Homo sapiens: one gene and its partners. The protein of the gene in region 3 purifies or fractionates together with the protein of the main gene of each other region. This does not show direct contact. Each region holds a gene or a part of one and is shown on either strand. Other genes may lie near its edges.

What was found.
Region 1: the proteins of SMARCB1 (region 3) and BCL7C purify together in Homo sapiens (affinity purification with mass spectrometry; 8 studies listed by BioGRID and IntAct, with this or other methods). This does not show direct contact.
Region 2: the proteins of SMARCB1 (region 3) and BCL7A purify together in Homo sapiens (affinity purification with mass spectrometry; 8 studies listed by BioGRID and IntAct, with this or other methods). This does not show direct contact.

What each region holds. Positions count from the first base shown.
Region 1 is NC_000016.10:30,887,380-30,891,127, reverse strand, and holds the end of BCL7C (B-cell CLL/lymphoma 7 protein family member C), read left to right. Parts: intron 1-2,169; exon of another isoform or gene 2,170-2,182; coding exon 2,183-2,268; exon of another isoform or gene 2,269-2,414; intron 2,415-3,137; coding exon 3,138-3,263; 3' UTR 3,264-3,333; downstream 3,334-3,748. UniProt on the Homo sapiens protein: May play an anti-apoptotic role.
Region 2 is NC_000012.12:122,028,309-122,031,956, reverse strand, and holds part of BCL7A (B-cell CLL/lymphoma 7 protein family member A), read right to left. Parts: intron 1,258-3,648; coding exon 1,176-1,257; intron 1-1,175.
Region 3 is NC_000022.11:23,793,378-23,797,025, forward strand, and holds part of SMARCB1 (SWI/SNF-related matrix-associated actin-dependent regulator of chromatin subfamily B member 1), read left to right. Parts: intron 1-181; coding exon 182-311; intron 312-3,648.

The DNA of each region.
Region 1 (3,748 bases), on a different chromosome or scaffold from region 3:
GTACGATCTTGGCTCACTGCAAACTCTGCCTCCCAGGTTCAAGCGATTCTTCTGCCTCAGCCTCCCATGTAGCTGGGATTACAGGCATGCCACCATGCCCGGCTGATTTTTGTTTTTTTTGTTTATTTGTTTGTTTGTTTTTGAGACAGAGTTTCATTCTTGTTGCCCAGACTAGAGTGCAATGGCACAATCTCAGCTCACCGCAACCTCTGCCTCCCGGGTTCAAGCGATTCTCCCGCCTCAGCCTCTCGAGTAGCTGGGATTATAGGCATGCACCACCATGCCCCGCTAATTTTGTATTTTTAGTAGAGACGAGGTTTCTCCATGTTGGCCAGGCTGGTCTCGAACTCCCGACTTCAGGTGATCCGCCTGCCTCAGCCTCCCAAAGTGCTGGGATTACAGGCGTGAGCCACCGTGCCTGGCCTAATTTTTGTATTTTTAGTAAAGATGGAGTTTCACCATGTTGGCCTGGCTAGTCTCGTACCCCTGACCTCAGGTGATCCGCCCGCCTCGGCCTCCCAAAGTGCTAGGATTACAGGTGTGAGCCACCGTGCCCAGCCAACACTTTACGTGTTTTTTTCTCATTTAATTTTTACTACAACCTTATAAGGGTGATGATCTTGTTATGATCCCTATTTATAGATGAGGAAACTGAGACCCAGAGAAGTAACTCAGCCAGTGAGCCAGCATCTTGGGCCTGTGTCCTCATCAGCTCTGCTTTTTTTTTTTCCTTTGAGATGGAGTCTCACTCTGTCACCTAGGCTGGAGTGCAGTGGCACGATCTTGCTCACTGCAACCTCCGCCTCCCAAGTTCAAGCAATTCTCCTGCCTCAGCCTCCTGAGTAGCTGGGATTACAGGCTGCACAACACCACACCCGGCTAATTTTTGTATTTTTAGTAGAGACGGGGTTTCATCATGTTGGTCAGGATGGTCTTGAACTCCTGACCTCGTGATCCACCTGCCTCGGCCTCCCAAAGTGCTGGGATTACAGGCTTGAGCCACCGTGCCCAGCCAGCTCTGCTTTCTTCCATGCAGTCAAACCCGTCTGATTGGCACCTCTTCCTCCTAGGCTCCCTGTCCCTGGCCTTCCCATTTCTCACCCGTTTTTGGTTCCAGCTGGTCTCTTCTAGTCACCTCCACACAGCTGCCAGAACAACTTTTTCCTTCATTTTTTAAGCTTTGCTTTTTTTTTTTTTTTTTTGAGACAAGGTCTCACTCTGTCGCCCAGGCTGGAATGCAGAGGCGTGATCACGGCTCACTGCAGCCTTGGATTCCTGGGCTCAGTCAGCCTCCTGAGTAGCTGGGACTACAGGCATGCATCACCATGCTCAGCTAATTAGTGTTGTTATTCTTTATAGAGACAGGGTCTTACTATGTTGCCCAGGCTGGTTTCAAACTCCTAGGCTCAAGCGATCCTTCTGCCTCAGCCTCCCAGAATGTGAAACCCTGTCTCTACTAAAAATACAAAAAATCAGCGGGACGTGGTGGCACATGCCTGTAATCCAGCTATTAGGGAGGCTGAGGCAGGAGAATCACTTGAACCTGGGAGGCGGAGGTTGCAGTGAGCCGAGATCGCGCCACTGCACTCCAGCCTGGGGGACACAGCGAGACTCTGTCTCAAAAACTAAAACAAACAAACACACAAAAAGAAAACCCTGATGTGGGCCTGTGGACTGGGTCTGGGTCTAGACAGTGCCAAGCAGTTGTATACCTTTGCTAATATAAAAATGGTAGCAAGCATTTATTGAGCACTTACTGTGTGCCAGCCACTGTGCTTTACCTGCATCCGCTCATCTGACCCTCACAACAGCCACATGAGGTAATTACTATCATTATCCCCATTTTACAGATGGGGAAACTGAGGCCCATGGAAATGAAGTAGCTGGCCCAAGGTCAGGATTTGAACCCAGGCAGTCCAAGCCCAGAATCTGTGGCAACTTAGCATGCATTCCCTCTGTCTCACGTGTCATACTTTCCTGTCCACCGCATCACCCTCGAGCTCCCACATCAGTGTTCCCTCCTCTGCTTCCTGGGGCACAGCCAGGTTCCTGCTCTCTCCTCTCTGCTCCCATGGCCCTCTGCCCTCTGTGACTGGGGCCTGTGACCATCTGTTTCCCCCACTGTCTGTGCTGCTGGCACAGAGTGGCTGTTCAGGGGATGTTTGTTACCTTGACGTTCCAGATCCCGGGGGCATAACTGCTGGCAGCACCGACGAACCCCCAATGCTGACCAAGGAGGAGCCTGTTCCAGAACTGCTGGAAGCTGAGGTGAGAGAGGCCAGAAGGCTGGACTCCTGGGTCTTGGAGGGAATGGGGGATCTGGGCAGTCGAAGGCTTGGAGCCTGCGTCCTGAGGGCCTGGAGGAGAGGCAGACCTGGGACAGAGCTGAAGGCTTAGGGGCTGGGTTCTTGGGACTGAAAAAGAAAGGGTGTTTCAGAGACAAAGTGCTGAGGGCTGGATCAGGGCTGATTGAGACCATTAAAAGCCTGACAAAGCTGGGCGTGGTGGCTCACGCCTGTAATCCCAGCACTTTGGGAGGCGGAGGCGGGTGGATCATGAGGTCAGGAGATCGAGACCATCCTGGCTAACACGGTGAAACCCCGTCTCTACTAAAAATACAAAAATTAGCCGGGCGTGGTGGCACGTGCCTGTAGTCCCAGCTACTCGGGAGGCTAAGGCAGGAGAATTGCTTGAACCCGGGAGGCGGAGGCTGCAGTGAGCCAGGATCGCGCCACTGTACTCCAGCCTGGGTGACAGAGCGAGACTCCTTCTCAAAAATAAATAAATAAATAAAGCCTGACAAAATCATGGCGCTCCTCCATGCATTTTCAAAAAATATCAAAAAATATCTAACTGTATAATTAGCATAAGAAAATTCCTTATAAACCTCTGACATTTCTCACGAGGCTACCTCGAGGCATTTTCAGAAATATCAAATATCAGGTTCGTTCCTCCACACAGTGTCACTGTCGTTGTTGTTTTTGGTGCCTGCTTCCTCTGCATCCTGGGCATCTGGCCCTGGGCTTGCCTCCCGGGCCCAGGAGGGGAGGGGAGTGGAGGCTTTGGAGAAGGCAGAGGCTCAGAGGCTGGACGCCTGGGTTCTGTGGAGCTCACGCCTGTCCACCCTTCCTCTCCAGGCCCCCGAAGCTTACCCTGTCTTTGAGCCAGTGCCACCTGTCCCTGAGGCAGCCCAGGGTGACACAGAGGACTCGGAGGGTGCCCCCCCACTCAAGCGCATCTGCCCAAATGCCCCTGACCCCTGAGAAGCCGGCCTGCCTGTCCTGTTGCCCCAGGGGCCCCTTTGGCTTTTTACAAATAAAGACCCTTTTGTAATTTTGTGTCATGTCATTTCCCCGTCAGGGCTGGGGAGGGTCTTTGGAGACAGTTTTGTCTCATGCACCATTGCTCAGATGTGGTCACTGAGGCTCTGAGAGGACCTTCCTGTAGTGACACCACAAGGCAGAGTGGGGTGGGGGCTTGAGCCAGGACCCTGCCTCTCAGTACTTCCCAGGTCTGTCCTATCTCCCGACCTTCACCTCCTCCTCTGGGAGGCCCAGGACCCCTCTTCCTGCTCAGCCCTCGCCTGGGCCTAACAATTATCAAAACTCTGGGTAGCTAGGCCATGATTCTTTTTTTTTTTTTTTTTTTTTTGAGACACAGACTTGTTCTGTTGCCCAGGCAGGAGTGCAGTGGTGCGATCATGGCTCACTGCAGCCTTGACATCCCACCTCAGCCTCCCAAGTAGCCG
Region 2 (3,648 bases), on a different chromosome or scaffold from region 3:
CAGGGGGGAATGGCCCAGGCAAAGGCCTATGGGGCAGACTGTTCTTGATTTGGGATGGAAATGAGAGGGGTCTCTGGAGGTAACTGGCCTGGGAACCACGAAGTTGGGAGAGCACTGTCTGCTCGGGGCAGTTGCCAGCCATCACAGGACAGCGCCTCGCATTCCCTCTAGTGGTGGAAGTCGGGATGGCGCCACCCCTCCTGGAGCCCTCCTGGAGCCCCGCATCCCTACACCAGGCTTTCCTAGCACCGGGGACCCCTGTCACCAGCAGCTCCACTCACCAGAAGCCTCTCCAAGCGCAGAGAGAACCTGCGCTTTGGAGTCAGACAGACCTGAGCTCCATTCACAGCTCTGAGGTGAGCCATGTGAAGTGGCTTCACCTCTCTGAGCCTGTGCCCTCACTTGTACAGAGGAGAGGTTAAAAAGATCAACTCCACAGGCTGAGTAGGAAAAATAACGGAGATGCCACATGTGAGGCATCAGCCCAGGGCCTGGCAGATGGTCAGAGGCTCAGGAACAGAACCACAAAGGTGGGGAGAACGTGCCTAACTGTGGGCACCACCACACCTGCCCCAAAACACAGTGCCAAGCCCTGGGGGGGGCGCTCGGCCCAGAAGACACAACTTGCAGGCCGGGCGCACTGGTTCACGCCTTAACTCCAGCACTTTGGGAGGCCCAGGCAGGTGGATCACCCGAGGTCAGGAGTTCAAGACGAGCCTGGCCAACACGGTGAAACTGCGTCTCTACTAAAAATACGAAAAAATTGGCTGGGTGTGGTGGTGTGCACCTGTAATCCCAGCTACTCGGGAGGCTGAGGCTGGAGAATCGCTTGAACTCACGAGGCAGAGGATGCAGTGAGCCAAGATCACACCACTGCACTCCAGCCTGGGCGGCAGAGTGAGACTCTGTATCAAAAAGAAGAAGAAGAAGAAGAAGAAGACACAGCTTGCGGGATCCCCCCGTCCACCGCTCTGAGGGCCAGACTCTGGGGCTGGAGTGGGAGGGGTGGGGACTGGTACAGCAGCCTCCCCAGGTCTAATCTGGGTCCTTCTACTCCCAGGGGCTCTTGGTCCCAGAGCCCCAGCACGGTGGGTAGCAGTGGACAATCTCCCTCCCCATGGTGGGAGGAGCACGAATGGGTGGCCCACCCCAGGGGACCAGCCCTCCATACTCACGTCATCAACCTTGGGCTCCGTCACAGGGACCCATTTGTAGATTCGTAGGGATGTGTCACCAACGGTCACCCATTTCTTCTCCCTGAGGAGGATGAGGAAGAGCCTGTTACCGGGGACTCTTCATCCCTGGGGGACACAGGCCACACTCCCTTGGGGCTGAGAGCAAGCTCCAGATCACACAGATGAGGGTTGGAATCCCAGCTCCACCCTCACTAGCGGGAGGCCCTGGGCAGGCCACATCACCCATCTAAGCCTGGTTTCTCCACCCGTTACACCACATAGGGTGGTTGCCCTCTCCAGGCTGTCGCCAAAAAGGCTGAGGGTGGGGCTGCCATTACAAGGACTCCTATGGGTGGCACGAGTCGGGCCCAGGTTCCTCCTGTGTCACTGCCAATGCCACGCAGCCAGTGGACTGGGCCACCCGCGCCTGTCTGGGCAGCAGAGAGGGCTTCAGGCCAGCAGGCCGATTCCTCTCATGGGGGGTGGAGTCGTCACCAAGGACACCCCGGGGCTCCTCCTGCCCTCTGGGCGATGCGTCTGAGGTCAGGGGAGGCATGAGCAGGCAAGCCGGGGAGCCGCCCACACTCTGCCGGAAGAATGCCCTTCGTGGCGGCCAAGGAGAGCCAGGGAGTGGTGACCTCGGCCCGAAAGGAGGTTACACAGCCTGAATGTGTGGGTGCAGCCAGGTGGGAGGGGAACTGCACCCCTGATTCAGGGCTCCTAGTGACCCTGTCTGCAAGGTCACCCCAGCTGCATTACAAACGCCTGAAGGACGGAGTCCAGACCCCCCACTGTGAGAGGCAGGTTTATGGATGAGGAGAAACTTACAAGCCACAGAAGCAAACAGGACTGGTTTTCATTCGAGATAACAATGCCCACCCTCTCCTCCACCACCACCACTCTGCTCCGAGCCACTGTCATTTTTCCGATTATTGCTACAGCCAGCCACCTCCTGTCCTTGACCCCCTGCACTCCGACTTGTCCCTTACCGCCACGAAGACCCAGCAGCCACACCCCTGAGGGGACTGAGGCTCAGGAGAGCCTCCCAGAAGCAGGGCTGGGGTTGGAACCGAGGCTCCTAAATCAAGACTCTGCCAGATCAGGAGACCTGCGAGGCCACCAAGGAGCCACTGATGGCTCAGCTAGGAGGCTGGCGGATTTAAGGGGCCCAGCAGGCACTGTTGGGGCAGGCGCACCCCTGGTACAGGCGACGTAGCTGCCCGAGTCCTCAGCAATTTTGGTGACAAAAATTCCCAGAACTGAGAATTCTGTGTGGCACGAGCACCTCTGTCCGTGAGCTGCCTGGCACCTTTTTTTGGCCTCTCTGCCCAAACTCAGCCTTAGATCACCCCCTCGTGGGGCATGTGGCCCTCACATGCTGGTGTGACAGGTTACAGGACTCCCACCCTGTCACCACGGGGGTTGCGGGATGACGGAGCATACTCAAACCCAGCCAGCCGAAACCACAGACACCTCACCCCCAAAAACCCTGCCCGCTCGGGTCCCACGTGTTCCATCAGAGGACGCTACGGCCCGGCTTTTCTTATTATACCAGTGGCCATTCCTAGCGCCTTCTATGTACCAAGGACTGTGCCGGCTCATCCGGCAGGAAATGGCAACTTCCCCATTTGACAGATAAAGAAACCGAGGCACAGGGCGGTGAAGGTGAACTCATTCTCCCAGAGCCAGCACTCGAACCCTTCACCCAGCACAGCTGTTGAGACCAGCCTCTCTGCTCCCTCCTCCTTGCACCTTTTCACCCAGAAACGATGCAGGAAAGACGAGTGTCTAAGTCCACTGGCCCGTCTCCTGCCTCCTGTGGGCAGAGCAGACAAACCACAATGCCCACCTTTCCCCTCCTCAATTCTGAGCAATCAGAAGGTGTCCAGAAGAGACCGAGTGCTCCTGGGAAGAACCTCAGTTGTTAGAGCAACCATCACAATAGCCACTGTGTGCCCAGGCTATTACATGCCAGGCTCCACGCCAAGCACTCTACTTACACACCCTCTCTCCCTGGGATTCCCAACAGGCTACAAGAGGGGGACGATTGTCACCCTTTTTACAGATGCAGAAACAGGATGCCCAGAGAGGTTATACCACTAGCTTGGGGTCTCACAGACAGGAAGTGGCAGAAGAGAATTAGATTTGGGCTCGGACCCCAGACACCACCTCCTGCTATTCTGTTGGCCATGAAAACCAAGAATCATTCTAAAGGAGCGCCAGGGTAACAGAAGCTGGAGGAAGAATGACAAATTGCCAGGACTCCATGCAGATTGGCCAAAGCCATTCATTACTCATGAGCCCTGGACCAGCTTCCCAGTAAATCAACCCATTCAAGGTTTGATTGTGTTTGGGAAAAAAAAAAAAAAGTAATTGACTTGTAACACACAGGACACCTTTCAGGGCAGAAAGTGTGCCAGAGATCTGGGCTTTGCGGCCGCAAATCAGCCAAGATGCAAGTTTGCAGCTGCTT
Region 3 (3,648 bases):
AAGTAAAGCACTCAGTCCAGATTGCCCTTTTGGAAGAGGCCAGCATTCAGCAGTAGTAAGTTTGACACCTTGCTTTTCCCACCTCCCGCATGCGAGGACCTTGATGTGCTGCATCCACTTGGCTGGCTGCTGTGTGCCACCGCCACCAGCAGAGTGACCCAGTGATGTTTGTCTGTTACAGATCACGGATACACGACTCTAGCCACCAGTGTGACCCTGTTAAAAGCCTCGGAAGTGGAAGAGATTCTGGATGGCAACGATGAGAAGTACAAGGCTGTGTCCATCAGCACAGAGCCCCCCACCTACCTCAGGTAATGCGTTCCTGGCCAGGGCATCTCTGGGGACACCTGTGGGGTCTTTTCTGAGACTCAAGAACTGGTTGGGTTGAAGTTAAATTGAAACACTTTTTTTTTTTTTTTTTGAGATGGAATCTTGTTCTTGTCGCCCAGGCTGGAGTGCAGTGGCACGATCTTGGCTCACTGCAACCTCTGCCTCCCAGGTTCAAGCGATTCTCCTGCCTCAACCTCCCAAGTAGCTGGGATTACAGGTGCCTGCCACTATACCTGGCTAGTTTTTTTTTCTTTGAGACAGAGTTTCACTCTTGTTGCCCAGGATGGAGTGCAATGGCGTGATCTCAGCTCACTGCAACTTCTGCCTACTGGGTTCAAGTGATTCTCCTGCCTCAGCCTCCCAGATAGCTGGGATTACAGGCATGCGCCACCACGCCCAGCTAATTTTGTATTTTTGGTAGAGACGAGTCTCTCCATGTTGGTCAGGCTGGTCTCGAAACCCCACCTCAGGTGATCCGCCCGCCTTGGCATCCCAGAGTGCTGGGATTACAGGCGTGAGCCACCGCGCCCGGTCCTGATTTTTGTATTGAAACACTTTTTAACAGTTCCCTCTGTTTTTATACATTTTCTTAGCCAGGTTTCTAAGTTTCTTCTATATCATTGGAATTTCTAAGAAACGTAAGCCAAGTCCTGGATTCCGGAGAACAGTTACAAATGCTTGGAAAGTGGGACTCGTGGGGCACAGTGGCTTATGTTTGTAATCCCAGCGCTTTGGGAGGCCGAGGCATTGCTTGAGGCCAGGAGTTTAAGACCAGCCTGGGGCAACACAGCAAGACCTCATTTCTTAAAAAAACATGTAAGTGGGACCAATTTGTCAGAAAAATCAGTGGCTCACATAAACTCACAAAAGAAACAACAATAGATTTGAATGTATAAAAACTTAGAACCTGGCTGGGCACGGTGGCTCACACCTGTAATCCCAGCAGTTTGGGAGGCCGAGGTGGGCAGATCACCTGAGGTCAGGAGTTAGAGAGCAGCCTCATCCACATGGAGAAACCCCATCTCTACTAAAAATACAAAATTAGCCAGGTGTGGTGGCACATGCCTGTAATCCCAGCTACTCGGGAGCCTGAGGCAGGAGAATTGCTTGAACCCGGGAGGTGGAGATTGCAGTGAGCTGAGGTTGCACCTTTGCACTCCAGACTGGGCAACAAGAGTGAAACTCCACCTCAAAAAAAACAAAAACAAAACAAAACTTAGAACCTTTAGAAGAGTATTTATAGTAACAATTAAAAAACCAAGTAATTGGGAAGTTACGATGTTGTATCTAGAATCTATACATCTAGATTTATACAACAAACTTGGATACCCCAACAAATAGGTAAAAGATGGTCCATACCTTGAAGTACAAGGGAGTAAACAAACATGGAAAGAATTTGCCCTCATGTGTAATTTCAAAAATTCCAAGCATAAGACTGGGCATGGTAGCTTATGCCTGTAATCTCAGCACTTTGGGAAGTCAAGGCAGGAGGATCGCTTGAGCCCACGATTTGACTGTGTTGCCCAGGAGACCAGCCTGAGCAACATAGTGAGACGTTATCTCTACTGAAAGTTAAAAAAATTAGCTGAGTGTGGTGATCACACCACTGTCCTCTAGCCTAGGTAACAGAACGACACTCTTTGTCTCTTAAAAAAAATAAAAAACAGGCCGGGCACGGTGGCTCACGCCTGTAATCCCAGCACTTTGGGAGGCCGAGGCGGGCGGATCACCTGAGGTCAGGAGTTCGAGACCAGCCTGACCAACATGGTGAAGCCTCATCTCTGCTAAACGTACAAAGTTAGCCTCGCATGGTGGTGCATGCCTGTAATCCCAGCTACTCAGGAAGGCTGAGGCAGGAGAATCACTTGGACCCGGGAGGCGGAGGTTGCGGTGAGCCGAGGTTGCGCCATTGCTCTCCAGCCTGGGCAACGAGAGTGAAACTCCATCTCAAAATAATAAAATAAAATAAAAAATAAATAAATAAAAAATAAAAATAAAAATTCCAAGCATAAAACAAAAAACTGGCAACATAAGGAATTGGGGAAGGTGTGATAGAACTGCACTCATGTGTGCTGGAGGTGCTTTTTTTTTTTTTTTTTGAGATGGAGTTTTCACTCTTGTTGCCCAGGCTGGAGTACGGTGGCATGATGTCGGCTCACTGCAACCTCCGCCTCCTGGGTTCAAGCGATTCTCTTGCCTCAGCCTCTGGAGTAGCTGGGATTACTGGAATGCACCACTATGCCTGGCTAATTTTTTTGTATTTTTATTAGAGACGGGGTTTCACCATTGTGCCCAGGCTGGTCTCGAACTCCTGACCTCAGGTAATCCTCCCGCCTCGGCCTCCCAAAGTGGTGGGATTACAGGTGTGAGCCACTGTGCCCAGCCGGGAGTGCCCTTTCTGTAAAGCATCCTGACATCAAACTTTTTTGTTCTCTGGCCCATTAATACCGCCCCTGGGAATTTGTCCCAAAGAAACATTTTCAAAGAACAAAATGAATCAGTAAACCCACTATATGTACAGAGATTCTCTGTAGCATTGTGAATAATACTGGAGAATATGGAGTCGCTTAAGTATCCAGCCTTTAAGGAAAGGCTAGGTTAGTGACGGGTCAGCCACTTGAATGGACAAAGGTGTGACCCATACATGGTATAATTAAGTAGATTCTGCAGTGACCCGAGACGGGTCCTGTGGGTGAGACGTGCAGAATACAAGATTGTACCCATCTACCTTGTGCATTCAGCTCTCAACAAAGTATGCATTTCTCTGCACAAAGCCCAAGGAGCATTAAGAAAAAGGATTATTGTTCAGAGTGATGTGGTTATGGAAAATCTTTTTTATGATTCCCCTGAAAGGTGGCACGCCTCCAGGCTGGCCAGTGTTACAGACGTGTGCTTTGCAGATTCTTTTTCCCCCAAGGGATGTGGTAAGAACATAAGGATGGCTTGGCCTTCCCAGGGAAGTTGCAGAAGGAAATTGTGTACATATGGAGGGCACTTTAATTCTGCACATGTCAGCTGGGAATCTTTTATGGGGCGATAAAACAGTTTCTTGGTGATCATGTCGTGAGGAACAGCTGCAGGAGTGGAATCCCGTTGCCCTGGAGGTCAAGTCTTTAGGGGTGGGGGCTGGCAGAGGTTTGAGGGAAGTGGCTTTGGCTGGCTCCACACTACTCAGTCAGCCCAATAAGGGGACTTATGGCACCCTCCCCATCCTGTCATCGGACAATTTGAGCAGAGGCTGGGTGCCCTCTCTCAGGGATGCTGGGATTGCAATGGAAGGAAGGTTGTTTTTCTTTTTTTTTTTTTTTTTGAGACGGA